Linked DNA regions of Homo sapiens: region 1 is linked to region 2. The links come from fine-mapping of genetic effects on gene expression. A gene starts in region 2. The other region holds a variant in brackets. All regions are shown on one strand. Distances are between the middles of the regions.

Region 1 (9,815 bases), 32 kb after region 2:
TGTTGACTGACACAGGGCTGAATGGTTCCTGCCAGAGTCCTGAATCTGGTGGCCTGTGTCTTTTCTGTGCCCCATTCCCGCAGGGGGGTGAGCCATGGTGTAGTTCTCACAGCTCGCCCTCCTGGGCAGAGAAGGTACTAAAGGTGTAGAGGCTGCGAGTACTGCTGCCCCGACCCTTGGGATTTGTCCTTTGAGGTACTTCCCTTAGAATTTGGCCATTTGGGGGCCCTTCTTTCATTTGCTTTACTGTCCTCCAAACGACGTAATCACAAGTTGTGAGTATCAGTTCGTTCTTAACCGGGGTTTCTCGGTGGGTTTCTGCTTCTCCTCTCCTTTCCCATTCCGTGACGGTTGCTCCATGTGGCCCGGCATCCTTACAGGAGATGGTCCTGTCTTCATCTCTCTGTGTTTCATCTTATTTTTTTACTTACAGGTTATTAACACGGGGATCAAAGTCTGGTGTAGAAATAACAGCGGTGAAGAGTTTGACTGTGCTTTCCGGCTGGCACAGGAGGTAATTTTGGAAGTGGATTTGAACAGCAGTAGCCACAGATGACTGAAGCAGTCGGGAGTAGATGGGCTTGCTGGTCAGCCAGATGGTCTGAGTGGCTCAGGGCTTGGCTGGCACCTACCAGCCACTTGACCCTCACAGGTTATAGAGCTCTCCCAGAGTGCTGGTTTCCCCTCCTAGGGGGGGGTGGGTTCCACACCTGTCCAAGGGGAGGGGCCATAGTGAGGGCTCGACCACCATAGCCGCTAAGAGCATAGCCCCTGAGAGCAGGCTGTTGTCGTTCATGAATGACATCATGGTATCTGTTCTCTCATTCTCTTTATTCACACAGGGAATATATACATTGTATCCATTTATTAACTCAAGAATTATTACTGTATCAATGGAAGATGTTAAGATACTGTTGACCCAGGAAAATCCCTTTTTTAGAAAACTCAGCAGTGAGACCTACAGTCAAGCAAAGGACCTGGGTGAGTAGTTGGAAATGCATAGAGACATAACTTGTATTCCCTTTATAAGGCCAGCAAAAATGCAGGTGGTGTGCGTTGGGGCATATTTATCAATCATAGTTTTCAGTTTATTTATGGCTACATCAATTTCCAGAGGGTTCTGTAGATCCCTGATTGACAGTTCAGAATGCTAAGGGTCAAAGGCATCTTGGGGTTGGTGTACTTCCCCAGGCTCTGGTGGTGCCCTGCTGCTGCCCAGCAGCCTGTGGTGTGTCTGTGTGGCGTGCAGGGCTGGCCTTTGCTCACCTTGCTGGGCCAGAGAGTCCGGGGAGAGGAGGGGTCAGCCTGTGAGCAGCCCTGGCAAGCCTCCCAGCCAGAGCTCTTGACCCACTTGCCTGTCAGCAGGTCGGGGGTGGGTGGAAGCAGGTCTCTGTGCATGAGCAAATTTGTTTTTTTCTTTTTTTGTTTTGAGACAGAGTCTCGCTCTGTCACCCAGGCTGGAGTACAGTGGCACGATCTCGGCTCACTGCAAGCTCCGCCTCCCAGGTTCAGCCATTCTCCTGCCCCAGCCTCCCAAGTAGCTGGGACTACAAGCACCCGCCACCACGCCCAGCTAATTTTTTGTATTTTTAGTAGAGACGGGGTTTCACCGTGTTAGCCAGGATGGTCTCAATCTCCTGACCTTGTGATCTGCCTGTCTCAGCCTCCCAAAGTGCTGGGATTACAGGCGTGGGCCACCGCGCCCAGCCAGTAAATTTGTTTTTTAAGGTACACAGCCTCACGAGACTGGCTAACATGCAGATTTTAATCACCTGTGTTAGAGCAAAATAAGAGTCTTGCCAGCAGTTCTGACTTTTCTGCTAGCCAGCTGGAGTAGATTATTGGTCATATTGCTGCTTTTATATTTCATCAACTTCCACTTCAGATCACTCCAGTGACGTTTTCCCCTAAGCATAAAAATCATTTCTCCAAGCTGTTCTAATTTTCTTTCTGTTGTCTTCATTCTTGTTTATTTTTTTAAATAACTTGCTGTTTAATATTTTTGGCTCAATTTGATCAAAAGTACGTGAATCACTTCTTGCAGTTACGTTTCTTACTTGCGTTTAAAACTTACTCGTGTGGTTCCTTTGGGATATAAAACATGCTCTGTGGAGTCTGTCTCCCACTGCCGTCTCCAGGCAAGAACCACAATTTAAAGTAGAGATTCTTGTAAAGGATAAAGGACCTGTTTATACTGGTTTTCTTTTAATCCTGCACTTAGATGATTGCAGTATTGTTTTAGACAATTTTTATGTATTTCATGCCATTCTGGGAGTTGGTGTTATAGTTTATTTAATTTTGAATTTTGAAGAATTAACCAGCAGTTAATCCCCAGCCTCCTTGCTTCTCAGAGTGGATTGTCAGGTGACATCCCTTGAAGTCCCTGAATGGCTTTTGCCTGGGTCCTCTTCCAGATCGTCCCTACTGCGTCATTTGGACTTGGTTCATGTATCCAGACGGCCTCTTTTCACCATCTAGATCCTTGAAGCCAAGAATGTAGATTATTTGTTGTTTTCTTTCTTCAGAATACTTAACACATCACTAGGTGCAGAAATGTGCTCAGCGCATGCATCCACTACCTGGAAAACCTGGCAAATGTGTGTCTGTTTCTTTTCCAGCAAAGGGAAGCATCGTGCTGAAGTATGAACCAGATTCTGCGTAAGTCAGTACACGCCCTGCCCTTAGACACACACGCCTTGTCATTAGCTACAGTGTTCTCGTTGGTGAGGAAAGTGACTTGGGAAGGTGGGAACCTTCTTCAGGCCTTTTGTGATTGTTCCTCAGAAGTAGCCTTGTGAAAACTTCAGAACCAAAATATTCCTGTAGGTCATCATGAAGATGCTGTTTCATAGAACACTCAGCTCAGGCTAAGTGAATTTTTACTTACAGAGAATAAAATGCATAGTACTTATTTTTTAAGCATTAGAAACCAATGAAAATTTCTGTCTTGTACAGAGTAAGTGTGAAGATTGGACAGTTGAGTGAGGTTCCGTTCTTTTGTCCTCATGGCTGGTTCAGCCATGTGTGTTGCTGACATGTTACTGCATCAGGAGTGCTAGGGCCGGAGCATGGGATTTGCTCACGCTTGCACTCACGGTCCCCACGGGACCACTGCTCCACGCTGCTTGCATGTATTCACGCTGCATCCTTGTGGGGGGCCTTGGGGGAGCAGGTGCTGGTTTTGGCAGCACTTGCCAGAGGAGGAAGCCGGGACAGAAAGTTAGGTGGCTTGCCCAGAGCTCCTCAGCTCACGAGTGGCAGAATTCGGATCTCACCTGCAACAGCTCCGTCTTGGTGACATGCAACACCATTTCTGAGAGGAGGAAACAGAATGGGGTCCACGGCTGACTGGGATTTGGGGGAGTGAATAGGTAGAACCACTGTACAGATTTCTTTGGGAAGTTAGTGTTGGACCAGGGATCCAGTGCTAACTTGAAGGAACCACCAAAGCGCAGATCCTGAGGCAGGTGCAAGCTGGGGGTCGGGGCGGGCCCAGCCAAGTAGGGAAGGAGGAGGGATAGGTAAGAGGTTGGCAGGGAGGCCGAGGGGCCACATGTCCTCAGGGTTCAGGCTGTCCGGCTGCCATGTGGAGAGAGGACAGGTGGGGGCTGAGGTGGGAGGGGCAGGAACTTGGTGAGGGAACAACAGATGGATGGGCTGGAGAGGTCAGCGAGGCCGAGCGCATGAGCACCCTGGGGACCTGCTGGAGGCGGATGGTGTCTGGATGGTGAACGGGCAGGAGCATCTAGTGATTGATGGCTTCTGGGTGTTTTTAACGAGAGTTTGAACAAAGACTCAGAAATGGTTTTTAAAATAACAGTCCCATGTGGCCCACATAGAAAATATTGGGATATTTTAAGGTGTGGATTCACTTTTCCATATTTAAACACTTGTTTCTACTTGGTGAAATACACAGGTGACAGGTCAACTTCAGGAATAATGGTTTTTTTTTTTTAAGAAGATGGGAGTTGGGAATTTCTTATATTTTCCTCTCACTTCTTAAAACCACCTTTGTGCCCCTGCTTTACATTAGGAAAAATGGAAAGGTGATTAAACACGGCCGTTAGGAGCCTAAAATCTAGGTCAGAGTCCCGTATGAAAGAAATCAGATAAGTTGAGAGAGGGCGTGTGCAGGTTGGAAATGGTGGCGTCCATCTCTGCTGGGGCGTCGATGCCTCCTGGCTGGACAGGTGGAGCCTGGAAGGTAGGGAGGCTCGGAGCATGTTCAGAGAGGCAGGGATGTTTTTGACTGTGGGTAACACTGCATGCTGGGAACGGAAATGAGCACTGTGTGCCCAGCAGGGCTCAGACTGCCATGTGGGGTCCCTGGAGAAGAAATCACGCTAACACTGAGTATCAAAAGGATGAGTGGTCCTGGGTTCTGCTCTGGCAGCCCTGCTAAGGGCAGAGTCTCCCGGTGGTCCTGGGTCCTGCTCTGACGCCCTGCTAAGGGCAGAGTCTCCCAGCCTCTCAGGAGCTTCAGTCCACTTAGGAAACTTGAGGTGAGCTGCAGGGAGCCTGTGGAGAAACGCTTCTCATTTAGTGGGGTGAGGTGACACGGGGTGGCGGGGACAGTAAGTTAAGTTTGAGAAGGAAGTATGTAGAAAGTGTATGTGAAATCTGTAGATTTGGGGCCTCTACTCCATTGTGAACTTAAAGAGGCAGGGCGAAAGCGAGGGTGAGAATTTTACTCAGGACATGAAGAAGGAAGTCCTTTGAGAAAACCTACCCCTCGGATCCAGATGAAATGTCCTCCCAGTAGTTTTGGGGGTTTTGTGGGTATGGGTTTTCTGTGGTTTTCTTTTTTAAGCAGTTGCATATTACATCTCATTCGATTTAGTTATGGGAATGTTTAATGTTCTACATGAAGCCACTTTCACTTGTAGGAATCCAGACGCTCTGCAGTGTCCCATCGTCTTATGCGGATGGCGGGGAAAGGCCTCCATTCGAACTTTTGTGCCCAAGAATGAACGGCTTCATTATCTCAGGATGATGGGGCTGGAGGTATTGGGAGAAAAGAAGAAGGAAGGGGTTATCCTCACAAATGAGAGTGCAGCCAGCACCGGACAGCCAGACAATGACGTGACTGAGGGACAGAGAGCAGGAGAGCCCAACAGCCCAGATGCAGAAGAGGCCAACAGTCCAGACGTGACAGCAGGCTGTGACCCGGCGGGGGTCCATCCACCCC[G/A]GTGAGCAGGCCCAAGGCAGCGGGGGCCCACACCCCTCACACGCAAAACTGGCTTCTTCTGGTCACTGGTGTCTGAAACCAAATCCAGAGCAGCCTGTGGCCTGTAAAGCATATATTTCTAATGACTGCAGACTGGTGGGATCATAGGAGCCTTCTGAATGACCAGGACTGCTTTCTTTGGAGCTGATGAAAATGTACTCTTTTAGCGTGTTAGAAATCACTTGTTTTATTTTGTTTCTTTGGCCAAGCTGGGTCTAGTGTTTCTTTTGCTGGGAATAGACTTTCAAAAGTTGTACTTCTATCAAGAAACAAAACTGCCCTTGCAGAAATTTCAGGTCTTTTGTTAAGCCTGTATTGGTCTTAAGGTGCAGTATTTTTTAAATTATTATTTATAGAAAGAATCTATAAATTCTTGGGGAAGTGTGTTATAAGCTTTAATAATTACATTGAGCTGCACCTCAGTGGTGTGTCATTAACATGCAGTGGGGTTAATATCTGAGGCCTCAGATGACTTTGTGCCTTTTGGAATAAAGGGTAAAATAAACTCTCCCAGAGTAAGAGCTGTATCGTGAATTGTCATACTAATTATTGAGGGGGACTTATGTGCTTTTATTGAATGGAGTGCTTTACAATTTTTATTTTTAAATGGGGTTGGGATCCTTGGAATATTTCAATAAAATTGATAAAATATATACATGTGTGATTCCTGTTTTTGCTCTTAGGAAGCAGAAAGAACAAACTTACTTTTGGCTAAATGGCAGTGTTAGAATACATCCTTATTTTCTCTAGTGAAAGCGGTTTTACTGTGAAGGCTGCTGTCTTCCTGTCTACCTCATTTTGTGTGTTGGTCTGTACAAACACCGACCACACACTGCCTTTGGTGGATTTGTCTCTGGAGTCTCCACTGTGGAATACTTTCAAGCTCTGTGGCGTGAAGAGCTCCTATTTCTCTTTCGCCCACATTCTCCACTGAACATTTCTCTACATTTGCATTTGCATCCTCTGGTGTGCTTGCATGTCACTCATTGTTTTCTGAACCCTTTGACAGTAAGTTACAGACGTGTTCCGTTACCCCCTTGCTCCTGTGGTGTTTCCTGGAAACAGAGGCCCTCTTTACAGCTCGCAGCATAGGCGTCAGAAACGTGGATGCAGGTCACCCTCAAACCAGCAAGCTCGCTCCAGCGGCCCAGTAATGTCCTTTGCAGTCACAATGTCCAATTTTGTCTGGGGTGACACCAGTTGCCTTTGGCTGTCTTGTCTCGAGTTCACTACCGTCAGAAACAGTTCCCAGTCTGTCTTTTATGATTGAGACAGTCTTGCAGGGTACCGGTCAGGTAGTCTGAATGTGCTTCAGTTTTGGTTGGTCTGAAGTGTCCCTGTGATGTGTGCGTTTTTGACAGGAGGACCACAGAGGTGGTGCTGTGTTCTCGCTGCGTCATGCCAGGAGGCTGACGATGTTGGGTTTTCTCTTTATAGTGGTGGTGAAGTTTGTTTTATTATTAGTAACATGGTATCTGTCTGCCAAGTTTCTCCACTGAAAAATTTGTAAGTATTGTGCAAGGAGACATTTCAAGACTATATTCCTCTCTCTCATCAAACTTTTAACTGCCAGCTTTAGTATTTCTTGATAATTTGCCTGAGCCAGTTTTTACTGTGACAGCTACAAATTGTTTTCCCCCATTTTTCATCACTTCTACATTATTAGTTCTCATTACATAGAATAAGCACTCCTCTGTCCTTTGTTTGCTTCTTGATTCATTTTCTGTCAGTACGGATTCAAGGATTCTGTTTTATTCAGTTATTTATTTATTATTACTGTCATTTATTTTGGTTCTCAGATTGTCCCGGCATTGGCCAGTGGGAACTGTTTCCAGTCAGTTTCAGTGCTTTATCCTACTTGCTGGTCCAGGCCCTGGACTGGGGACACCGGGCACGGTGGGGACCTGGGGGCCACACAGGTGTGTGGGGATGGGTTTAGTGCTCTCAGCATCTTTCTCCTCCCTCAGCCCCCAGAACTTTTAGGGCAGTGAGATCTTGGTCTACAGAAGGGGATTGTTGAAAGATGCTTCTCTGGGGAAACTGTCTAGCTTCAAAGAAGCCGTAAAGATAGCGGCCTTAGGGTTCCTGGGAAGTAGCCCACTCTTATCACCCTGTAGCGACGCTCAAAGCGAGGAGTCACTCCCACACTCAGCACTGCCTGTGAGCACCTTGCCTTGTCAGAATAGGCAACCCCGGGTAACCAGACACAGAGCAGCCTCCAGTGTTGGATGGATGTAGGGGTCAAAGACAACAGAATAGCAGCTAGCAAGTACAGACCACACAGGGAGAAGAAAACTTAAAAATTGATAAATAAGGTGGACAGTTATTATGGTGTATGGATAAGCCTGAGGAAACATTCAAGAGAAGACTGCTCCTAACATGGAGGATTTTCTTTCTCTAACTTTAATCAGCATTTTGGTAAGGGTCTTCCGATTCCCGAAGAGTGCACGGCAGAAGAAAAGACATCAGCTGAAGGAGTTTTCGCTTCCACCCAGCAGGGTTGTCTCTGATGAGGGCCTCTCTGAAGTAGCCAGCCCCATAGGTTGGGAGTAGTGGTTGCCTTCTGGTGGGGGTGCTTAAATGGGAGAAAAACTTTTTACTGAAAACTCTTTGTTTCCTTTGAACTTTGACGTACCTGTTGAGTAGATGAATAAAATAAATTTCCTAAAAAGAAGGACAACTTTGAGCCAGCGAGTCCACTTCACAGGCCCACAGATGAGTCAAATGTGTCTGCAGAGTCATTTGATGCAATGTTGTTAATAGCAGAAACCTGGAAGCCCTCAGCATCAATGACGAGGCACTGGGACACCAATGGTGCAGAGCCCCCACGTGGACACTGGCCAGCAAAGGGGCTGAAGCAGCTCGCTGTGTCCTGGAGTCCAGTGACCACCAAGAAAGAAACGCAAGGTGTAGAGAAGAATGTGCATTCTGCTGCCATTGTGTACAGGGGGAAAATACACAGGCTTGGAGACATGTGCTTTTGAATTTATGTAAAGTAACTGGAAGGATACAGAAGAAATTGACAGTTTTGGTTGCCTCTGAGGAGGGCATCTATGTGGGCTGGCCAGTGTTAACAAGGAGATTTTAAATACAGATGCTCTTCAGCTTACGATGGGATTATGTCTTGATAAGCCCAGCATTAGTTGAAAATGTCCTACATCAAAGTGCATTAAGTACACCTAGACTACCTTCAGCATGCTCAGAACACTTCCATGCTACAGTTGGGAAAATCATCTGGCAACACAGTCCCCTGCAGAGGGTTGGTTGTTTACCCTTGTGATCGTATGGCTGTTGGAGCAACTCGGCCATTGCCCCACATCACAAGGATATCGACTACAGATCACCAGCCCAGGTAGAGATCAAAATCCAAAGTACAGTTTCTATTGAATATGTGTTGCTTTCCTACCATCATAAAGCCAAAAAATCATGCGTTGAGAATTGTAAGTCAGGGGCCCTCTCTATTAAAACATGGTAATCTTAGCTCTATTCAGTTAACAAGTGAGTAGTGAATAAGTGCTGCGAAAGAGATATCTGTATCTCTGTGAGCCCAGAGGACAAAATTATTAATGGGCATCCGCAAGTCTGGGATTGTGTATACACGCGCTTCACCCTAGCAAATGGCACTCCATTCCCAGAGCACTTCTCAGGAAGTGGGTTTGGGACGTCTCTGTTCTCGCTCACTTCAACGAATGCTGCACAGCCTGGGGTGGAGGGTGAGGGGCTTGACTCCTGGCTCTGCCGCGGTGGCCTGTGTGCCTCCACAACAGCCCCTTTGACCCCCGCCTCTGGGGTTCATGTCCTGGTGCATTCTCCTGTGTGTGTGGGCTGCACCTTGTGACTTGCTTCTGATGTATAGAATGACGATGGGGCAAAACTTCCAATGAGATTATACAGAAGACTCTGACTTCCATCTTGTTGGTGATACTCTTGTGCTGTGTCGGGGTTCCCAAGACCCACCCGTGGGTTTGGTGAAGACTCCCAGGACTCAGCACCTAGTCCTACTCTGCTATGATGTATTACACAAAAGGCTTGTGACTGCAGCAAAGGGAAAGGCACATGGGGTAACATCTAGAAAAAAACAGGTGCAGGCTTCCGAGAGTCCTCTCCCAGAGGAATCAAACAGGACAGACTTGATTGACCCAGTGAGTTGTGATTACACATGCAAAGTGTTGTCTTTCAGGGAAGCTCATTAAAGACTCAGTGCTCAGGGAGCTTACAGGGGTCATGTGGGCACCTGTCTGGCACCTCCAACATTCCAGACTCCCGCAGGGAAAGCAGGCACTCAGTGTATTGTTTGCATAAACAGTTTAGGCACATTGAACCACTCTTACCCGTTGGGATGTTGGGAACACTCCCAAAATCCAGGTTCCCAGAGGCCAACTAAGGGCCAGTCTTGCATTCAGGCCTTTTTAGGGAGAGTGGCCTTGGGCCTGCTGGGTAAAGTCCTCACACCTGCCTTACTGCAATGAATTAAGTGCAGCATTGGAAAAGCAAGGAACTGAGGCCCTTAGTCCAGCAACTGCCTTGGACCCTAATCCAGCCAACAACCCCATACATGAGCTTGGAAACAGATCCTGCCCTAGTTGAG
Region 2 (9,798 bases):
ACGTAAGTCTTCCTTAAGTGTTTGCTGAATAAATACATGAAAGCGCACCATTCCCTCTATCCCTTCCTTCACCTTTCCTCCCTCCTTGACCTGACTGTCCTGTACTCATTGTTCCCAGAACAGTCAGTTGCTCTGGGAAGAGCTGTAGCTCTGCTGCTGCCTTCAGGCCTCATGGACTGTGGAAAGTCCCTGGACCTGGCTCTGGTCCTTGCCACTCCCAAAAGAGGCTCTAGTTCCCCAAGGCAGGGCCCAACCTCACTCCAGCGAAACCTCACAGGTCAGCACAGGGCCTGTGTGCACACCTGTCAGGTTGTGTAAGGTGGTACTGGCTCTGCCTGGCCAGCGCCTCCTCAGGCTCACTTTTCTCCTGCCTTTCATAAGAGTCATCCTTGTACCCACAGCCTCCTCTCACCGGGTGTGGTGTTCTCCGTTCTCTGCAGGGCCCTGTGCAAATAAAGGGCTCCAGGACGCTTCCAGGGGCTGCTGGGATGGTTTGTGTTCAGTGCTAAATGCTGTTTCCACTCTGGTTCTCTTCCAAGTGCTCATGACTTAGATCAAGTGACTGTTTAATAAATTAGTTGCTTGGGTAGAATGGAAAATGTTTATCTTTTCTATTTGGAAAATGTAAATGTCCCCAAACCACATAGACTATGTACACAATAACATGTACAACTCAAAAAAAAAATAGCCTAGCAATTTAAAAAAAAAACTATACCTGACCCAGCCAATCCTCTTGGAGCAGCTTTTAAACTATTAGTATAGGAAGTGGGCTTTCATCCCAGCAGCTCCTTATCCAACAGCCTCAGGGAAGACAGCAGCATGCTGTGCCTCCGTGTTCTACTCTGTATGAATGAGCTGTTCAAGTTCTATCATTCAAGGTGACTCTGGCCCTTTGGGAGGCTGCATTCATTTTTCTGCTTGAGTGAATGTAGGTACAATGAAACATGATGTCTCAAGTTAAAAAGCTTCCACTTGGGATGTCAGGCAAAACTTTGTCAAGTGTTCCCTTGATTTCCAACACCACAGTTTTGCTGGCACATGAGGCTGGCAGCAGTGCACATGAATGACACACAGAGTACATGTCTGGATGTGCATTCACAGCAATGCAAAATAGTGCTAGGTATTGTGTACTGAGCACGCAGATGCGCCAGCACCATGCAAGCATTTTAGGGAGTTGCCTTTGCTCTAAATTCATGTGATCCCACAGGGGGGTTCCATCACCATGCCCATTCTACAGGTGGGGAAACCTTGCTGCGGGGCAGCTTAGTAACTCATCCAGGGTCATGACTGATGGGACTAGGATAGCACCGAATACTCTGACCTGAGATTGCTTTTAGCCATAAAGAAACAGACATACAGCTTCTGGTATATTTATGGAAAAGTATATACAAACAGCAAAGTCTGACTAATATTCAAATTGTAGCAATGGTTGATCCCATTCCAAAAAAAAAATAAAGCAATGGTAAAGAGTTTCAGGCACACAGTACTCACTAAGCCTCTGATGAATGTTGACTTGCCCTTGTTTAAAGTGCAAGTCATCAAAGCACACTGAGGACACAGACTGCACCAGTTACAGGGTAAGGTGCTGGTTTTCAGGGAACTCAGGTACCAAAAACTGTGCTGGGTACAACACTGGTTCCAAGTAGTGGAGCTGTGTACTTTCTCTTCGCTGGAATGCATGACACCAGGAGAAAGAAGAGAGGCTTATAAACACACACTGAGTTCTTCCTGTCTCTCTGGGAAGTGAGTGTTTTAAGGTGGGACCCCAAATCAGAAAGGTTGGGTAAACTGCCCATAGTCACACAGCCAGTGAGTTCAACTTCCTTGGGTGTAGAGACATCCTTTTTAACTGTGAAGCTTTCCAGAGCCTGAATGAAAACGTTTAAAATTTAATTTTGAACTTTCGACCTGTCGTTTGCTTTGGCTGTGTAAAAGCCAAAAGATACGACCTGGAGAGAACCCCAACTTATTAGAAGGCTTGAAGATTTCAGACACAGCCAGTTTTCAAATATTCAAAAAAACAAAAACCTTGAAAGATTTAGAAGTCATCTTTAAGACTTCGTTTGTTTAAGGTTTAAGGTTGCTGGCTTTCCACCCCCACAATCCTGGGGTCCCTTGCATAAGGTGGACATGAAAGTCTCTGAAAGTGATCAAGCCTATAAGGAGAAACTGCTAGGCAGTTTTAGGACAGCAGGTTTCCAGTTGCAGCTGATCACTTGGCTGGGAGAAAACAGCTCCACCATCACCAAAGATACCAAAAGGGGAACCGGCAGAAAGGAGTAGAAACCAGTGGCCCTCAAGACCGACCATCAGCATTAGACTCTAGGCCAACCCCCTCCCCCCCGCCCCCACAGTCGTGATCTAAGGGAACAAAATCTAGTCTTCATTTTTATTTTACATTTTTACTTTTTAACTCTTTATTTTTATATATTTAATTTTGAGACAGAGTCTCGCTCTGTCACCCAGGCTGGAGGGCAGTGGCGAGATCTCGGCTCACTGTAACCTCCGCCTCTCGGGTTCAAGCGATTCTTCCATCTCAGACTCCCGAGTAACTGGGATCACAGACAGGCGCCACCGCGCCCGGCTAAGGAAACCAAACCTAGGACCACTGAGTGGCTCTTTCCAGATCAGTTTCATCATGTTTTTTTCCATCACTCCCTTCCAGTCCTTTGTTTCCCGCCCTTTCCAGACGAATCCCTTCTGGTTTCCAAACTCCCGGGGCCGGGGGACTCGGGGAAGGGCACCCGTGCAGATGGGGGACGCCCCGGGGGATCTGGCAGGGAGAGGGCATCTGGGTGGGGGAGGCTTCGGGGAGAGGGCACCGGGCAGTGAGGGGAGGGTCGGAGAGGACGCCGGGCCGGGAGTAGGGTAGGGGGCCGGGGGCCGGGGACGTTACCGATGCCCGTAGTGGACGAGGAACATGGCCAGGAGGATGCAGTTGGGCGCGCTGCGGAGACGCGGGGCGGACTCGCTGGCGTACTGGTAGAGCGGCAGGGCCAGCGAGGGCAGCTCCTGCACCACCCAGGCGGCCCGCGCCGGCACTCGGAGCCTGTGGCTGGGCAGCGCGTGGCGGCCGTACACTGAGTTCGTCTGACGATTGCGCGCGAAGACCGCGCAGCCCACGGCGCACTGCAGGTAGGCGAGCGCGGCCAGCAGGCGCTCCTCCGCCACCCCCGTCGCCGTTGCCATCGCCAGGGCTGGGCAGCGTGCTCCATGCCCCAGAGGCCGCGGCGGGCAACATATAGGGCGGCGGCGCGGGGGCAGGAGGGGCGGCTACCGGAGGGGCGGCTACCGGAGTCCCGCACTGCCGGGACTCTGCAGAAAGGGTTCTCAAGTCAGGCTTCTCCGGGGTAGCCGGGGCTGTGGGTGCGGCCCCGGGGGCGGGGCGAGCACTTGCGCGGGGAGGGACCTGCAAGCGCCCCACCCACGCCGGGGCCGCAGTAACCCCGCGCCGCTCTGCGCACGCGCGGCTTCAGGCTGTCCGCGGAGCTCCTTGAGCCCGCGTGGGAAACCTGGGCGCTTCGCGCGGAGACGCCTTTGTGGCTGCTTCCTGGAGCATTTTTTTCCCCTTAGAGCTGTTCGCTGTTTTCCCTGTCACGCCGCTTTTCTGAAAGACGGGTTGTGCGCTTTGGGCTTATTCCTGGACGGTCCCCAAAGGTCCCCGAAAGGACCAGGCCCGGACACGTGGGGCCTTGGTTTCCGGCCGGAAGTCCCGGGAGGTGTAGGGCTAGAGTTCTGGCCGTGGCGGGCCGGTTTCTGCGTGCTGCGTGCGCGGCCGCGTGGGCTATGGGGCGGCGGTCGCGGGGTCGGCGGCTCCAGCAACAGCAGCGGCCGGAGGACGCGGAGGATGGCGCCGAGGGTGGTGGAAAGCGCGGCGAGGCGGTAGGAGCCGGGACCCGGCGGGCGGGCCAGGGGCTCCTCCTGGGCTTCCCGGACCCCGAGGCCTGCGAGGCGGCGGCGAGGGGGCGGCTCCTTGGGCCTCGGGGTAGACGTCTCTTTCCTTCCTCAGGGCTGGGAAGGAGGCTACCCCGAGATCGTCAAGGAGAACAAGCTGTTCGAGCACTACTACCAGGAGCTCAAGATCGTGCCCGAGGGCGAGTGGGGCCAGTTCATGGACGCTCTCAGGGAGCCGCTCCCGGCCACTTTAAGAATTACTGGTTACAAAAGGTAGGGAGGCAGTGCCTGATTTTTTGGGAGTTGGGGCCAGGATGCTGGAGGTTAAAGGCGACGGTGTTTTCTTCGACAAGTGTTACAGTGCCAGAGAACCGTGGCGTTTCAGCGGTTTGGATTCAGGAAGCATTGAGGTGGGGAGCACAGGGTCCAATGAAATGGTCACGGAGGTATTGCAGGCGCAAGGTTAGAAGACGAAATGAAAATGAGATCTGAGGAAGATTCGGCTCCTGGGGAATCTTCCAGGAGGGAAGCTGAGGGTCTTACCTTTTGGAACGTAAGAGAATTTATAGAGAATGCATAAAACCCCTTGGTTCTCCCCTCCTCCGCGCCCCCCCTCCATCTTTGTAGTTACATCTTTCTAAATGAGTCGCAAGTAAAACTTAACGGTAGGATATGCTTAGGAGAGAAGGAATGCAGTGTTGCTCTTAGGGCTCAAACAGTGTGGATTGCTTAAATTTTGAAGGCATACAGTGTAAAAGTAGTGACTAAAGAATGTTTACTCTCCATGCAAAAGTTGGTTTTAGTTTTAAAACACTTGCAGTCTTAAATTTAAGAAGATACAATGTATTAACTTAGTTTTTTAGATCAGTTTGAAACTTCCTTATTTTTCAATAGCCACGCAAAAGAGATTCTCCATTGCTTAAAGAACAAATATTTTAAGGAATTGGAGGACCTGGAGGTGGACGGTCAGAAAGTTGAAGTTCCACAGCCACTGAGTTGGTAGGTACCACAGTGCTTCATGCCGAATATTTATTTGGGATATTAATCTCTATCACTTGAATTATATTTCTTGGTACTGCATTTGCTGTTAAAGAGCTTGGGTATACTTTGCAAACATCCTAATGTTCTAGTACCTGGTGCTTTTATCAACATTATATTGCTACGCAAGTTTTCATGCGATTTGCGATTTGCAGCTTTATGAGTCACTGATTTCAGCCAGCTCTTCCTAGTACATCCAGCCTCTTCCTTTATGTCACCACTTCCGCCAGCTCCCTTTTACAGCCCTTGTTTTCTCACATCAAAACTGTTGCAGAGTGGCTGCTTTGCCTTCAGAAAAAGGACAGACTTAGCTTGACAACAGTCTCCTGGTAGGTAGTCTCTTAGTGTTTTCCATTACAGACAGGTTACCACTGTCTGCTGTCAGGTTGTCTCCTGGTACTTCGCAGTACAGACTGCACCAGCCAATGTAGCATTTCCGAGTCTCAGCACCCAAGCGTGCTACTACTCTGGGAGCTACCTCTTTCTTGACCTGTCCTGGAGGTGCCTTCTGGGTTACCTATTCCTCATGGCTCGGTTCTAGTCTCAGTTGTATGAAGGTGATCCCTTGTGCTGATAGCATCTTGTAAAGATGCTTGGAGAACTCCGGAGGCGCCAGTCCTTCAGTTAACTTACATAAGTGGGAAAGTCGTTATTATTAACTTTGAGGTATTGAGTTCTCAGAAAAGTAATGCACGAAAAGGTGAATTAAGCCGTTTTTTGTTTGTCTGTTTGTTTGTTTGGAGACGGAGTCTCACTCTGTCGCCCAGGCTGGAGAGCAGTGGCACCATCTTGGCTCACTGCAAGCTCCACCTCCCTGGTTCACGCCATTCTCTTGTCTCAGCCTCCCGAGTAGCTGGGACTACAGGTGCCCGCCACCACGCCCGGCCAATTTTTTTGTATTTTTAGTGGAGACGGGTTTTTACCTTGCTAGCCAGGATGGTCTCATCTCCTGACCTCATGATCCGCCCACCTCGGCCTCCCAAAGTGCTGGGATTACAGGCGTGAGCCACTGCGCCCTGCCAAATTAAGCGTTTTGCATCAACTTTTGAGGTTTTGACTATTCCAGTACGTAGTGTTATCTTTCCTTTTTGGATAACCTTTAGTGTTCGCAAATCAAGGTCAGATTTTCATTAATCATGGGGTACAGATTTGCTTGTTTTTCTTTCATTGGCTATTTGGATTTTCATTGTCCCTATCACAGATAAGCATATACATTCACAATGAATGCTGACTGGCCAAACATTAAGTCAGTATTCAACCAGTATCAAGACCGAATATCACCATCATGGAATGTGTTGCTGGGATATAGGAATAAATATGACCAACATCGTGAAACCCTATCTCTACTAAAAATACAAAAATTAGACAGGCATGGTGGCACACGCCTGTAATCCCAGACACTAGGGAGGCTGAGGCATGAGAATCGCTTGAACCCAGGAGGTGGAGGTTGCAGTAAGCCAAGATCATGCCACTGCACTCCAGCCTGGGCCACAGAGCGAGACCATGTCTCAAAAAGGGAAAAAAGAATAGATATGCCACATCTTAGATTTTTAAAAGCTTGAAGGGTACAGTATAGGAAAATGATACGGGTGCTACGTTGCTGTTAGTGGTCACTAATTGTCCACTGTAGTGAGATCAGTGGAAAAGGTAGATGTTTTTCAGCCTCTAGTTATGGCATTGCTGAGATGAGGTAACCTTCACGAGATCAAGCTTTTCTTCCTCCTGGTAACTAGGTTGTAGACTTTGCTCAAGTCGTTTGGTTTGAAGATTTGATTGACGACACTGATTGTGTTGTACTTGAAGTAGAGGTCTGATACTGTAGTAGTCCATTTTCACACTGTTATAAGGACATACCTGAGTAATGTATAGATAAAGGAAATAGGCTTAATTGACTCACATTTCCACATCGCCGGGGAGGCCTCAGGAAGCTTAAAATCATGGCGGAAGATCTCTCTGCACAGGGTGGCAGGAGAGAGAATGAGTGCTGAGCAAAGGAAGAAGCCCCTAATAAACCATCAGATCTCCCCCTGAGAACGAACTCACTGTTGTGAGAACAACATGAGGGAAACGGCCCGGGGATTTAATTATCTCCACCTCGTCCTGCCCTTGACACGTGGGGAATATTACAATTCAAGGTGAAATTGGGGTGGGAACACAGAGCCAAACCATCTAAAATATTTTAAGAAGACAGGATTACGATTCTCCTCGGGCATGTTTGTATTTTTAGCAGTGATGCATGTATGTGCTGCTTCACACAATCACCTGGAAACATTTGTTTCTAAAACCTTGTGTTTAGAAGCGCAGAGACGGGATAAGAAATGCTTTTAAGATGAAGAAGTTCCTGTCCAGGAGGAACGTTTCAGCATGTGTCTATAGGGAAGAGGTGTGCTCTTAAGGCACCTCCATGTGGGCATTTTCTTCTGCAGGCTCCAACAAACTAGGAGAAACCATACGATGTCAATAAGGCTTGCTAGTTTTTTATTATTCTCTGCAAACTACAGTTACACTTGGATTTGATCAGCCCTTTTAACATTTCATAGCTGCTTTTCCACCTTGTTTAACAATGTGTCTGGGTATATGACAAGGTAATTACCAAACTCTTAGAATCTGCAGGTTGTCTGTAGTTGAAGAATGAAGGTGAATTGCTCTCTGCCAACAGCCAGCTATGTTTTTGTTTGCTTTAATTTTCTGAACACACAGCTGAAGGGTATGAACAAAACATTGTAGATCTGGGTTTCTAATATTTGGCTTTTTCCATTATCAATGATGGTTTCTCTATATTTTATTTTGAGACAGGGTCTCACTCTGTCACCCAGGCTGGAGTGCAGTGATGTCATGACGGTTCACTGCAGCCTTGACCTCCTAGGCTCAAGTGATCCTCCCACCTCAGCCTCCTGAGTAGCTCGGACTACAGGTGCATGCCACCACGCCTGGCTAATTTTTTTTATTTTTTTGTAGAGATGGAGTTTCACCTTGTTGCCCAGGCTGGTCTTGCATTCCAGGGCTCAAGCAATCTTCCTGCCTTGGTTTCCCAAAGTGCTGGGATTACAGACATGAGCCACCATTCCTGGCCAATGCCAGTTTCTTGGCAGCTGTATTCTCTAAACATTTATTTATTCAAATTCATCTGTCAGTTTTAGGGTACTAAATCTCTCAGCAAGCAAGTAAAGCAGAAGCTTTCCAGGACTTCTGGTAATTTTCTGTATTGCTCAAGATGCAGGAATAGATCATGTAATATTCTTCCCAATCCTCTGGTACATAGTGAAATATAATTTAGGAAAACGTTTTTTGAAATTACATTTTCTAGAAGGAAAGTTATGTATAGGACCATAGCTTGGGCCAGTTTCATTTTTTTCTTACTTTCCATAGACTCAGAACAATGAGAAATTATCCTAAAGCATTCTTATAGAAGCATTGTTTTGACAACCAATTGTTCAGAGTGCACCTTATTATCATTCTATTTATGTGCTGTTTACTTATATTTTTTTTTGAGACAAGGTCTCTGTTGCCCAGGTTGGAGTGCAGTGGCATGATCTCAGCTCACTGCAACCTCCACCTCCTGGGCTCAGGTGATCCTCCCACCTCAGCGTCCCAGGTAGCTGGGATTACATGCCCCCATCACCATACCCAGCTATTTTTTCTATTTTTTGTACAGTTGGGGTTTTGCCATGTTGGACAGGCTAGTCTTGAACTCCTGACCTCAAGTGATCCGCCCACCTTGGTCTCCCAAAGTGCTGGTGTTACAGGCATGAGCCACTGCACCTCGCCTGTTACGTGCTTTTTAATGTCTAGATTGAGGATGGTTTGTCATAGATGTTGTATATATTTACAGAGTCCTTACCACTTGAGAATTTTTAATATGCAAAGATGACAGTGGTCCTTTTAACTTATCCTCTAAAAAGCCCAAATAGGATTTTTTCTTAAAAGACACAAGCTAAATTTGAAGTAAGTAACTAAAAATTAAATATACCTCTCATTTTGTTTGATGTTAAAATCTACAAAGATTTAATAAACATTTTTTGGTTCATAAAAAGATGATGCTGTTCCTAAAGCTGTATAAGAAACATAATTTAAAAACATTTCTTGTAGAAACAGGGCCTCGCTTTGTTGCCCAGGCTGTTCTCTGTACCCAGAGGAAATAAACATTTATCTGTTAGTTTCTGTTTGTATTTAAATATTTCAGAGTTCCTAAATGTTTCTTTACATGAGATCAACAGCCTTCACAATTATAAATACTGTAGAATTTTAATCTTGTAATAGTACGTTTACATTTTGACTATCAGAAATTTGACGAAAAAGACATATAAGGCTATATTTGTTCAAAGTATATCTAGACTGCTTATCTATATTTGAAAATGAAAATTCAGCTCTTTACAATAAGTCTAAATGGCATGTGGTGTTCATATTGATGTCTTAGTGATTTGGTAAGGCAATAACTTACATGATCGTACTAGCTTTGAGACAGACAAGTTCAGGAAGACCAGATACTATATGAGCTGGCATTTGGCTGTTTGCAAGTAGAGGTTACAGTGGCACAGCAGATATTTGCCCAATACTATAGCAAATGCCAAATTTGCATGTAACCTACTATTTCGCCTCTAATGAGTCCAAAAGATTATTTAAAACAATTCTTTTTAAAATTGCCTTATGAATATGATTTTCTTTTGGCTTTATATTTTTGAACACATTAAATGTCGAGGAGGGAACTGGGCTATATGAGATAGAATCAAAGCGCTGGGGACCTTTGGAGGGTGGCCGTGGACAGATTCAGCCAGTTTCGTCTTCATTATTTGGTAGAAAATGCTTTTCAGGTATATTTTGTAATATTTTGACTTGAGCAGTGTCGGGCTTTTAAGTCCTGAGTTT

What was found.
Region 1: its variant is fine-mapped to the expression of NSUN2 in whole blood (INTERVAL, PIP above 0.99).

What each region holds. Positions count from the first base shown.
Region 1 is chr5:6,595,304-6,605,118 of GRCh38, reverse strand. NSUN2 (NOP2/Sun RNA methyltransferase 2) reads left to right here. Exons shown (of 19, transcript NM_017755.6): 16 at 434-514; 17 at 843-981; 18 at 2,619-2,658; 19 at 4,887-5,880. The coding sequence ends at 5,193. Among named protein-coding and RNA genes, the nearest start is that of LINC01018, 18 kb to the right of the region's middle. The variant G/A (reference allele first, on the strand shown) is at 5,189.
Region 2 is chr5:6,626,968-6,636,765 of GRCh38, reverse strand. It overlaps NSUN2 (NOP2/Sun RNA methyltransferase 2), which reads left to right and starts at 3,722. Exons shown (of 19, transcript NM_017755.6): 1 at 3,722-3,882; 2 at 4,010-4,167; 3 at 4,789-4,893. The coding sequence starts at 3,787. SRD5A1 (steroid 5 alpha-reductase 1) reads right to left here and starts at 3,326. Exons shown (of 5, transcript NM_001047.4): 1 at 2,897-3,326. The coding sequence starts at 3,189. RefSeq lists enhancers at 2,603-3,114, 3,115-3,626 and a silencer at 3,090-3,479.